3 linked regions of the Homo sapiens genome follow. The protein of the gene in region 1 interacts with the protein of each later gene in a biochemical or structural test. Each region holds a gene or a part of one and is shown on either strand. Other genes may lie near its edges.

Region 1 (3,652 bases):
CTGATGTTATTTACAATTTCACGCACATCAAAGTTGGGGATTTTGCAGGACCACCCAGTACCGATTCCTTCAGCACCATTTATCAGCACCATGGGAATAATAGGAATGTACCATTCAGGCTCAACACGCTGGTTGTCATCATATAAAAACTTCAACGTGTGATCATCTTTTGGTGGAAATAACAATCGAGCCAAAGAGCTAAAGAAAAGAAACAAAGAATGTTATTTTACAAAAATACTGAATTTCACACTTAACTTTTATGGAAAGGACATGTATTATACATGAAAATTATCTTGGTTTTACTTGCTGACTAATATACATTTAACAATATTTATTGAGCACTTGCTATGTGTCACGCACATGGACATAAAGTCTCAATCCTCAAGGAGCTCACAGTCCAGTAGAAGTTTGCAATTAACACATATTTTGTTAGGTGGTGGGATAAACAAGAGAAGAAAAAGTGGGAAAGTGACTGAAGAGGTGCTAAGGAAAGTTAAGCCGTTTCTGATAGGAAAACATTTGAGCAGAGAAAAGACACTGAGGGCGCCAGGTGCAGTAACTCGCGCCTGTAATCCCAGCACTTTGGGAGGCTGAGGGAGGCAGATCACCTGAGGTCAGGAGTTCAAGACCAACCTGGCCAACATGGTGAAACCTCATCTCTACTAAAAATATAAAATTAGCTGAGCATGGTGGCGTGTACCTGTAATCCCAGCAACACGGGAGGCTGAGGCAGGAGAATCACTTGAACCCAGGAGGCAGAGGTTGCAATGAGCCGAAATTGCGCCACTGCACTCCAGCCTGGGCAAAAAGAGCAAAACTCCATCTCAAAAGAAAAAAAAACAACAAAAAACAAACTGAGGGACTGAACCATGTGGATATCTAGAGAAAGAGTGTTGCAGGCAAAGGAACCAGTAAGTAAAAGGCCCTGAAGAGGAAATGTGCTCGGTATATTTGAGTATAGGCCAAGGACAGTGTGGCTGGAGAGGAGATGGTATGAGAAGGAATCAAAAGACATGGAAGGTGGGGACACGGATCACATAATGTCTGGTTAGCTAAAATAGGTCTTTAGATTTTACTCTGAGCAGTTGAAGGTTCTGAATCAGAGTGACTTATTTTTTAAAAAATAATTGGCTGCTTTAAGAAAAGATGATATGTTACAATAGTTTAGATGAGATGGGGGTGGCTTAGTATTTTTCCAATGCAGATCCTATAGGATTGGCTGAGGAACTGGATGTTAAGTATCAAGCAAAGGAGTCAAGGGTGACAAGGTTTTTAGCCTGAGCAATTAGAAGGATGGCATGGCATTCCATTTACTGAGACAGGAAAACTAAGGATTTGGTTTTAGACTTATGTTTGAGATACTTAACTAGATATCCAAGTGGGAAATGTTAAGAGGGCAGTCAGACATAAAAGTTGGGAGTTCAGGGGAGAGACCAAGACTGGAGATTTAAAGGTATAGAACGGATGAATGGGAGATCATTTGGGAATTGAGTGTAGGCATTGGAAAGAGATCTGATGAAGGAGCCCTGGAATGGGCCAGTATTTAGAGGTTGGGAAGGTGAGAAGGACCCAGCAGAGAAAGCTAATAAGGTAGAAGAGAACCAGAAGAGTCTACAGTCATAGAGGCCAAATAAAGAGTTTCAAGAAGGATGGAGCAATTAGTAACTGTTTGAATGCCACTGAAAGGGTGACTGGGATGACAGCTGAAAATTGACCATTCATAATATACTTTCCATAGGCTTGTAAAGGAGTAAAATTTCAATTGTGATATTTAGGAAGAATCAAAGTCTCCTTTACTCAGTCCCAAGCTCTACATCAGGATTTCTCAACCTTAGCATAATTGACATGTTGCACTGGATAATTGTTATGGGGGGGCTTTCCTGTATAAGCCTCACCCCTGGCCTCTGCCACTAGATGCCAGTATCTTCTGATTAACTGAGTTTTTGTATTTTTGGTGAACTAAATCTCACATTGTTTCAAAACTGGAAATGGCAAGTCACTAGAAAGTGAAAGCATACCTACCTGAGCATTGTAAAGATGTATCGTGGACTAGCAGAATCCTTGCCACCATGTAGCCTGGTACCAAACTGACCAATGGGCTGCAAGAGGTTTAGATTATTGCTACCCACAAAATTCTGAGCCAAATTGATAATGGTCATCATTAGTGACATCTGTGGGGAAAAAAAGATTCATTAAGCTGAGGCTTTTACTAATACAAATACATTATGACTTAACCTCACTATAATCCTGTAACATTTTGTGAGGTCTAGTTGTTTAGTGACTTTCCTCAGATTAATAGATGGCAGAAATAGTACTTGAACCTACAACTTCTGGCTCCAAGTTTAGGGCTGCCGTCCAACAATTTCTATTAAATCCCACTCAACTTTGAAGGCATAGTTCTTCTCCTTATCCTCAGCAAAATGAAATATTTCCTCCTTTGTGTTACAATGCTGTGTTCATTTCTATTCTAGCATGTATCACTTTATTCTATAGCTGTGTGTGTATTGGCCCTCTGGCTAAATTGTTATTATATCTTGGGGATAAGGAACATATTTTTATTTATTTTTGTATACCTGGTACATGGTAGGCATTCAACAAATGTTCGTTGGGTGAAAATTTATTGTATCCCTACTATATTTTGATTGAAAGCAACAAGACAACCATTATATTTAAAATTCTAGAAACCTGTAGGCAATCTAGTTCTTTAAAACTGTTTTACATAATTAATGCAAAAAGTAATCACAAAACATTGGTGTAAAGTCAAACAATTCAGACACATATAAAAAGTGAAAGTTGCCCTTTCCAGTTCTCAGGGGTAACTAAAGTGAACAATTTGGAACATATCCTTGTAGACATTTTTAGTTATTGTTCTGTCTCTTTTTTTCCTCACCTGAGAATAGACCCTGGATATTCCTCAGTGTCAGTGCACACAGTTTTACTGAAGTTACAGCACTGATTCCATGCATACATGTGTCACAATTTATTATAACAATTTTCAAATCAGTGGAGGTCTAAATTTTGACATCACAAAGTTATAATAAACATACTAAGCATTTTTTAATGTAGACCTTTGCAGACTTATGAATATCCCTGCAGGAATATTACTTTCAGAAATCAAAGGGCAAGCAGTTTTATTCTTTCACAGGTTTTACCAACTTGTTCTTTACTATGAATATATGAGCTTATACTTTCACCAAATCTGTTTTGAGAATGACTCTGCAGGGATTTCTGATATAATGCTTTCTGGAAACATGGATTGTGTGTTTACCTCACCATGATGATAAGAAGACATTTCAGCCACTGATCCAGCTAATTGGGCAACCTTTACTTCTCGCTTGTCATTCCGTTTGAAGCAAGTAAACAAAACCTTTCTCTGACCTGGTTTCAAACCTTTAAAATGAAATAAGAGCAAACGTAAGTATCCTCAATTTAACCAATTTTGGAATTTGATTTCCATCTTACAATGAAAACAGACTAACAAATTGGAACTCACCATCCACCATAGAAGGGATAGATCTCTCGTTATCAGAATTTGAGAACAAGATAAGTTCCTTGTTGATGAAGTCATTATATGTCAGATATGTGGTAGTTTGTCCATACAAGTAATCCTGAAGGACCAAATAGTATTACATGAGTCTACCGGTCTAAACAA
Region 2 (3,652 bases), on another chromosome or scaffold:
GCTAATTTGTACAGCTAGAGCAGATAATTTTACAGATAATTTTTAAAAATCGCATCCCAAAACTAATGCAAGGTTATCTGATTTCAACATCTTTTTTTTTTTTTTTTTTTTTTTGGAGACAGAGTCTTGCCCTATCGCCAGGCTGGAGTGAAGTGGTGCAATCTCAGCTCACTGCAACCTCCACCTCCCGGGTACAAACAGTTCTCCTGCCTCAGCCTCCTGAGTAGCTGGGATTACAGGCACCCACTACCACACCCGGTTAATTTTTGTATTTTTAGTAGAGACAAGGTTTCACCATGTTGGCCAAGCTGATCTCAAACTCCTGACCTCGTAATCCGCCCGCCTCAGCCTCCCAAAGTGCTGGGATTACAGGCGTGAGCCACCGCGCCCGGCCAATTTCAACATCTTAATTATTGAATTGTTTTAGAATATCATCTTATGAAACTTACACATCAGACTGGTTTTGTTCATACAAAGCTTTCATCTCCTCCAGAACTTGTCTGAGTCCATCCTCCTAGAACATATAAACCGATATTGAAATCCACTGATTTCCCCACCAATTCTGTGGCAATATGCTATCAATACTGAACTGTATCTTTCATTTATATACTTTAGCAAAAAGCAATAGTCCTTTCACACCCCACTAGCATGGTTATAACAAGTGTTGGTGAGATGCGGAGAAACTGGAACCCTCGTACATTGCTGGTGGGAATGTAAAACGGTATAGCCCTGTGGGCAAAAACTTGACAGTTCCTCAAAAGCTACACACAGAATTACCATATGACTCAGTAATTTTACTCCTAGGTGTATATATATACTCAAGAAAACAGAAAACACATGTTTTTTGCAGCATTATTCATAACAATAAAAATGTAGAAACAACCCAAACGTCCATCAAATGATAGATGGATAAACCTTCCACTTATCTGAAAAATCTAATATAATAAAAAGAATGGGTCAAGGGTGGTGGCTCATGCCTGTAATCCCAGCGCTTTGGAAGGCTGAGGCGGGTGGATCACCTGAGGTCAGAAGTTCAAAACCAGCCTGGTCAACATGGTGAAACCCCGTCTCTCCTAAATATACAAAAATTAGCCAGGCGTGGTGACAGGCTGTAATCCCAGCTATTCAGGAGGCTGAGGCAGGGGAAATCGCTTGAACCCGGGTTGCAATGAGCCAAGATCATGCCATTGCACTCCAGCCTGAGCAACAAGAGCGAAACTTCGTCTCAAAGAAAAAAAAAAAAAAAATGAACTACTGACAACATACACAACAATGAGGATAATCTGAAATACGTTATACTGAGCAAGAGATGCCTGACACAAGAGTTTACATGAAATGATTCCCTCTGGCCCTTCACAGGAAAAGTTTGCCAAAAAGAATAATATCATCTGTAGTCAGAGAAAGCAAATTCATGGTTGCCTAAGGCTATAGGTGGGAGGTAGCTACAAAAGGGGGGCAAAGTTACAGAAATCTTTTTTAATTTTTTTATTTTTGTGGGTACACAGTAGGTATGTATATTTATGGGTTATATGAGATATTTTGATAATTACAGAAATCTTGATCAGGGTGCTGGTTATAAAGATGTACATATTAGTCAAAATTCAAAAATCTATTAAAATACACATGTTGTATGTAAATTATACATCAATAAAATTGACGAACAAAGATATCAATCGTCCTACTGAAGCATGAGGTATAAAGAAAAATATGTAAATAATTCATAATTTACTAAAAAATGGTCTTTTTTTTTAGATGGAGTCTCACACTGTCGCCTGGGCTGGAGTGCAATGGTGCAATCTCGGCTCACTGCAACCTCTGCCTCCTGGGTTCAAGCAATTCTCCTGTCTCAGCCTCCCGAGTAGCTGGGATTACAGGCGCCCACCACCACGCCTGGCTAATTTTTTGTATTTTTAGTAGAGACGGGGTTTCACTATATTGGCCAGGCTGGTCTTGAACTCCTGACCTCGGGTGATCCACCCGCCTCAGCCTCCCAAAGTGCTGGGATTACAGGGATGAGCCACTGGGCCCAGCTTAAAAGTGATCTTAAAAGGTTAATACCAAAAGAAAGAAAAAGGAATAGTGTTTTTGGTTTGCACTGCAAAAACCGGCCATAGGAGTTTTTCTAGTATCCAGTTTCGGGCAAATTTTCCCTTGGAAAAATAAAACATTAGAATTCTGATTTTTTTCGTTGTTGTTGAGATGAAGTCTCACTCTGTGGCCCAGGTTGGAGTGCAGTAGTGCGATCTCAGCTCACTGCAACCTCTGCCTCCCAGGTTTAAGTGATTCTCTTGCCTCAGCCTCTCGAGTAGCTGGGACTACAGGTGTGCACCAGCAATGCCCAGCTAATTTTTTTTTTTTTTGAGACGGAGTTTTGTTCTTGTCACCCAGGCTGGAGTACAATGGTGCAATCTTGGCTCACTGCAACCTCCGTCTCCCGGGTCCAAGCAATGATTCTCCTGCCTTAGCCTCTCAAGTAGCTGGGATTACAGGTGCCCATCACGTCCAGCTAATTTTTGTATTTTTAGTAGAGACAGGGTTTCACCATGTTCACCAGGTTGGTCTCGAACTCCTGACCTCAGGCAATCCACCCACCTCAGCCTCCCAAAGTGCTAGGATTACAGGTGTAAGCCACCAAGTCTGGCTAATTTTTGTAATCTTTTTTTTTTTGGTAGAGACAGGGTTTCGCCATGTTGGCCACACTGCTCTCAAACTCCTGACCTCAAGTGATCCGCCTGCCATGGTCTCCCAAAGTGCTGCGAGTACAGGCAGGAGCCACCGTGTCCAGCCCAAAATGATTAAATGTTACCCAATAGGTCTGCCAACAATCGAAAGAGAAGCAATCCCATCTCTTTTTCACTGTCTATTTTTAGGGCCAAAATATATGTGTTGGCAAAAATGCTGTGGCATATACAAATGGCACAATTCCAAAATCAACTACTCAACTCTGCTCAAAAGATGTAATTCCTGATGGAAAATGCAAGCATGACTTCTACCTGAGCCCAAGGTAATTTTCTTACCTTTTCCTTTTTGAGACAGGGATTCAGTCTGTCACCCAGGCTGGAGTGTAATAGCGTGACCACAGTTCACTGCAGTTTCAACTTCCTGGAGCCATGCAATCCTCTCACTTCAGCCTCCTAAGTTGCTGGGACTACAGGTGTGTGCCACCACACCCAGCTAATTCTATTTTTTGTAAAAATGGGGTCTCACTATGTTGCCCAGGCTAGTCTCGAACTCCTGGGCTCAAGTGTTCCTTCCACCTTGACCTCCCAAAGTGGTGGCTGGGATTACAGGCATGAGCCACCATGCTTGGCCTAACTTTCTTAAAAATGTACTTTTTAAAAAAAGTATCAATTCTGCATATAGAAAGGGTGTAATCACTTTTCTGTTTGCTGAACACAGCGCTTAACCATGAGTGATTCCAGAAGAAAAGCCTGTGTGTTGGGCCGGGCACGGTGGCTCACGCCTATAATCCCAGCACTTTGGGAGGCTGAGGTGGGTGGATCGCCTGAGGTCAGGAGTTCGAGACCAGCCCGGCCAAAATAGTGAAACCCCATCTCTACTAAAAATACATAAAATTATCTGGGCATGGTGGCAGGCGCCTGTAATCCCAGCTACTAGGGAAGCTGAGGCAGGAGAATTGCTTAACCCAGAA
Region 3 (3,652 bases), on another chromosome or scaffold:
TAGGTATGCTTTGTTTCCAGAATATTCCAAAAGTTAGATCGCTGGCCAAAATATTCAGAGTGGAGGCTGGGCGTGGTGGCTCACTCCTATAATCCCAGCACTTTGGGAGGCGGAGGCAGGCCAATTGCTTGAGTCCGGGAGTTTGAGACCAGCCTGGGCAACATAGTGAGGACCTATCTTCACTAAAAGTGCAAAAATTAGCCAGGTGTGGTGGTGCACACCTGTAGCCCACCTACTTGGGAGGCTGAGGTAGAAGAATTACCTGAGCCTGGGAAGTTGAGGCTGAGTGAGCCGTGATCACACTACTGTGCTCCAGCCTGGGCAACAGAGTGAGACCCTGTCAAAAAAAAAAAAAAAAAAAAAAAAAACGAAACAAAAAATCACCTGATGAAATAAATATTCAGAGTGGGAAGAGCTTGTGCTGAAAGCACTTAACGTGGGTAGCGCTCCCAGGGGGTGAGGCCAGAGGGGTCCTAGGCTTCCTAAAGAACGCATCATGATTCCCTGCCTTCCACCTCCCCTAGATCATTGCCTACCAGCCCTATGGGAAGTCTGTCGATTGGTGGTCCTTTGGAGTTCTGCTGTATGAGATGTTGGCAGGACAGGTAAGGGAAGGTGGGGAGAAGCTGGCTTGGCTAAAAGAGACAGAGAGGGGCACCTGGATCTCAGGAGGAGCCAGTTAGAAAGGAGCCCAGAAGGTTGTGCTCGAATAGCGCTGTCCATGGTTCTGAAGTGTTGTCTTAATGTAGACCAGGTGTTTTGTTTTGTTTTGTTTTGTTTGTTCTGTTACCATGGATTCTTTCTCCCTAGATGGTAAAGTAGCAGTCTGGTTAAGCCTATGGATCCCTTCTCAGAAGAATGTTTTTCAATGCACAAAATAGAATAATACATACGCAGAAAACCAAGGTTCAAATCCTCACTTTGCCACTTACTGGCTGTGTCAGCTTAGACAATTACATACATTCTAAATCAGCTTGATTGGATTCCTGGACTGCTGAGTGTACTACAACTAAAAAAATTGGTTACCACACTCTTGATCATCTTCTTAGCTGGCTATGGTAGTGGGCACCTATAGTCCCAGCTACTGGGGAGGCTGAGGCAGGAGGGTCACATGAGCCCAAGAACTCAAGGTTACACTGAACTATGAGTATGCCACTGTGTTCCAGCACAGGCGACAGAGCAAGACCCCATCTCAAAAGAACAAACAAACAAAAGAAATCAATCATTTTGAAAGATAGTCACCAAAACTTTTAAAATTTAATTGAATCTAACAACCAACTAAATTCAATGTATACAGTTGTCTAAATATTTAAAATTGGAAAATGGACATATGTGCAATTTCTTATTAATTCATTAAGTAGTAAGTTCTAATGGTAGTAAAGTAAAAAGGAGCTCTAACAGTAATTTTGATGTAGCAATGACTAATAATTTGGAATATCTGCAACTCTCATGTGATGAGAAAATACCTGTGATTACTATTGATAATGAAGCCACAAGCACTGCTGCTGCCTGCATTCATAACTGAAGGGAATGCTAAATTTTAGTTAGAAGTTAAAAAAAAATTTGGCCGGACATGGTGGCTCACGCCTGTAATCCAAGCACTTTGGGAGGCCGAAGTGGGCAGATCACTTGAGGTCAGGAGTTTGAGACCAGCCTGGCCAATATGATGAAACCCCATCTCTAAATCTTTGCCTTGGTATCATTTTTTGTAACCTCAGAAGACTGTGAACTACTCATCCAACCAGGAGAATGCTTTTAGGGTGTTTCCTGCAGTTTTTCCTCTCTTCTATTTAACTGACATGTTGCATAATTAACAGCCTGCTGATTTACATAGCAGATAAAGAGAGGCAGAATAGTACAGAGATGCACAGATCTGAGGCATCCGAGATAGGAAATGAGAGAACCTGAGAAGGAGAGAGATCAAGCTTTGGTGGTTTGGTCTGATCTCTCCTGAGGGTGTGGTCAGGTGTGCATGTGGGGCGTGTGATGGGTCAGGCATGTTCCCGGTGGGGTGAGGAGGGTGTGGAAGGTTTGGGGAAAGGCAGTTGGGCATGTCCCTGACTCTCTATCCCCTCCACTTTGATAGCCTCCCTTCGATGGGGAGGACGAGGAGGAGCTGTTTCAGGCCATCATGGAACAAACTGTCACCTACCCCAAGTCGCTTTCCCGGGAAGCCGTGGCCATCTGCAAGGGGGTGAGAGCCCCCTGACTCCCAGCTTCTCCAGGCTCACAACCACACACCCCATTGCTGTCTCTGTGCCTATTAGAAAAATGCTCCCATTCCTGAAGTCACTTTACTTCCATCTGTTGGAAAAGTTGATATGATGCATAGGTTTTGTTAGAACAATGATTTCCAGCCCTGTTGCCACGAGGCCTGGAGATGGCCTCTGTCTCATCCTTCTCTGTGACTCCCACTCCCCAGCTCCCTGCTTGCAGGAAGTGCTGAAAGTCCAGGGTGTCTGTCTGTCTAGAACTGGGTGGGTCAGGTAAACCCAACTTCTGCAGCTTTTCTTCCTGTGTGAACTTGGGTGAGTCACCAAAACTTTGTGAGCTTAACTCTCTTCAGGGGTTATGGAGTTGACACAGAAGAAAGCACCTGGCCCATAGCAGATTTTCAGCCCATGTCAGCACCTTCTGCGTCTAGCTGCTCTCTCTGCATCTCCCTGACAGTCTCTCTGGTTTCTGTCTCATGCCTCCCCTCCATCTGCATACGATGGGGCTCTCTGTGTTTCTTCCTTTTCTCTGTGTCTCCTTCTGCATCTCTGTCTACACTTTTGGGCCTTTGTCCAACCCCCCTACCCCCCATCTCTGTCCCCTCCTGTGTCCACTCTCATACACACACGCTACATCTCACCCTCCTCTCCTGCTGGCTTTCTGTCCTCCCTTTTCTCTGGGTCTCTGTCCCCATATTTGGTCTTTATTCCTCCCTCTGGGTGTGTGTTTCCTGGGTCTCTATCCTTCTCTCTTTCTGAATCTCTGTCCCCCTGGGTCTCCTCTGTCTCCTCCCTTCTCTGAGTTTCTGCCTTCTTACCTGGGGTCTCTGTACCACCCTCTGAATTTCTATTTCCCCTTTTCTCTGGGTCTGCAACCTCTCTTCCCCCATTCCCTCCCTCTTCCCCTTCATCTCCTCTACCCTTCCCTCCCTCCCCCTACCGACCTCCCTCTGTCCTTCACTCTCCCCTTCCCTCCCTCCCCCTACCCTTCCCTCTCCCCGTCCCTCTCTCCCCTTCCCTCTCTCCCCCTACCCCTTTTCCCTCTCCTCTTCTCCATCTCCCTCATGATTTGTTCTGTTTCTCTGTGTGTCCCTGGGTCTCTGGGTATGAATTTCATCTGCTATCATTTTCATGTATCCTCTCCTTCTTCCTGTCTCTCTCTCTCTCTCTCTCACTCACTCTCACCCTCTGTCTCTCTCTCTCTCTGTCCCTCTTCCTCTCTCTCTCCTCTCTGTCTCTCTCTGTCTCGCTCTCTGTCTGTCTCCCTCCTCCTCCTCCTCCCTCCTCCTCCTCCTCCTCCTCCTCCTCCTCCTCCTCCTCCTCCTTCTTCTTCTTCTTCTTCTTCTTCTTCTTCTTCTTTTCTTCTCTCTCTCTCTCCTTTCTTTTCCCTTCCTCCCTCCATTTGCCTGTTTCCCCTGGCTGTTCTTATCTCTCCGGAT

What was found.
Region 2: the proteins of TOP2A (region 1) and GINS1 form a complex in vitro, tested with the Homo sapiens proteins (one study listed by BioGRID).
Region 3: of the proteins of TOP2A (region 1) and PRKCG, one has a biochemical effect on the other in vitro, tested with the Homo sapiens proteins (one study listed by BioGRID).

What each region holds. Positions count from the first base shown.
Region 1 is NC_000017.11:40,400,884-40,404,535, forward strand, and holds part of TOP2A (DNA topoisomerase 2-alpha), read right to left. Parts: intron 3,609-3,652; coding exon 3,494-3,608; intron 3,391-3,493; coding exon 3,269-3,390; intron 2,172-3,268; coding exon 2,023-2,171; intron 199-2,022; coding exon 1-198. UniProt on the Homo sapiens protein: Key decatenating enzyme that alters DNA topology by binding to two double-stranded DNA molecules, generating a double-stranded break in one of the strands, passing the intact strand through the broken strand, and religating the broken strand.
Region 2 is NC_000020.11:25,410,652-25,414,303, reverse strand, and holds part of GINS1 (DNA replication complex GINS protein PSF1), read right to left. Parts: intron 3,188-3,652; exon of another isoform or gene 3,018-3,187; intron 515-3,017; coding exon 450-514; intron 1-449. UniProt on the Homo sapiens protein: Required for correct functioning of the GINS complex, a complex that plays an essential role in the initiation of DNA replication, and progression of DNA replication forks.
Region 3 is NC_000019.10:53,902,549-53,906,200, forward strand, and holds part of PRKCG (protein kinase C gamma type), read left to right. Parts: intron 1-524; coding exon 525-605; intron 606-2,086; coding exon 2,087-2,194; intron 2,195-3,652. UniProt on the Homo sapiens protein: Calcium-activated, phospholipid- and diacylglycerol (DAG)-dependent serine/threonine-protein kinase that plays diverse roles in neuronal cells and eye tissues, such as regulation of the neuronal receptors GRIA4/GLUR4 and GRIN1/NMDAR1, modulation of receptors and neuronal functions related to sensitivity to opiates, pain and alcohol, mediation of synaptic function and cell survival after ischemia, and inhibition of gap junction activity after oxidative stress.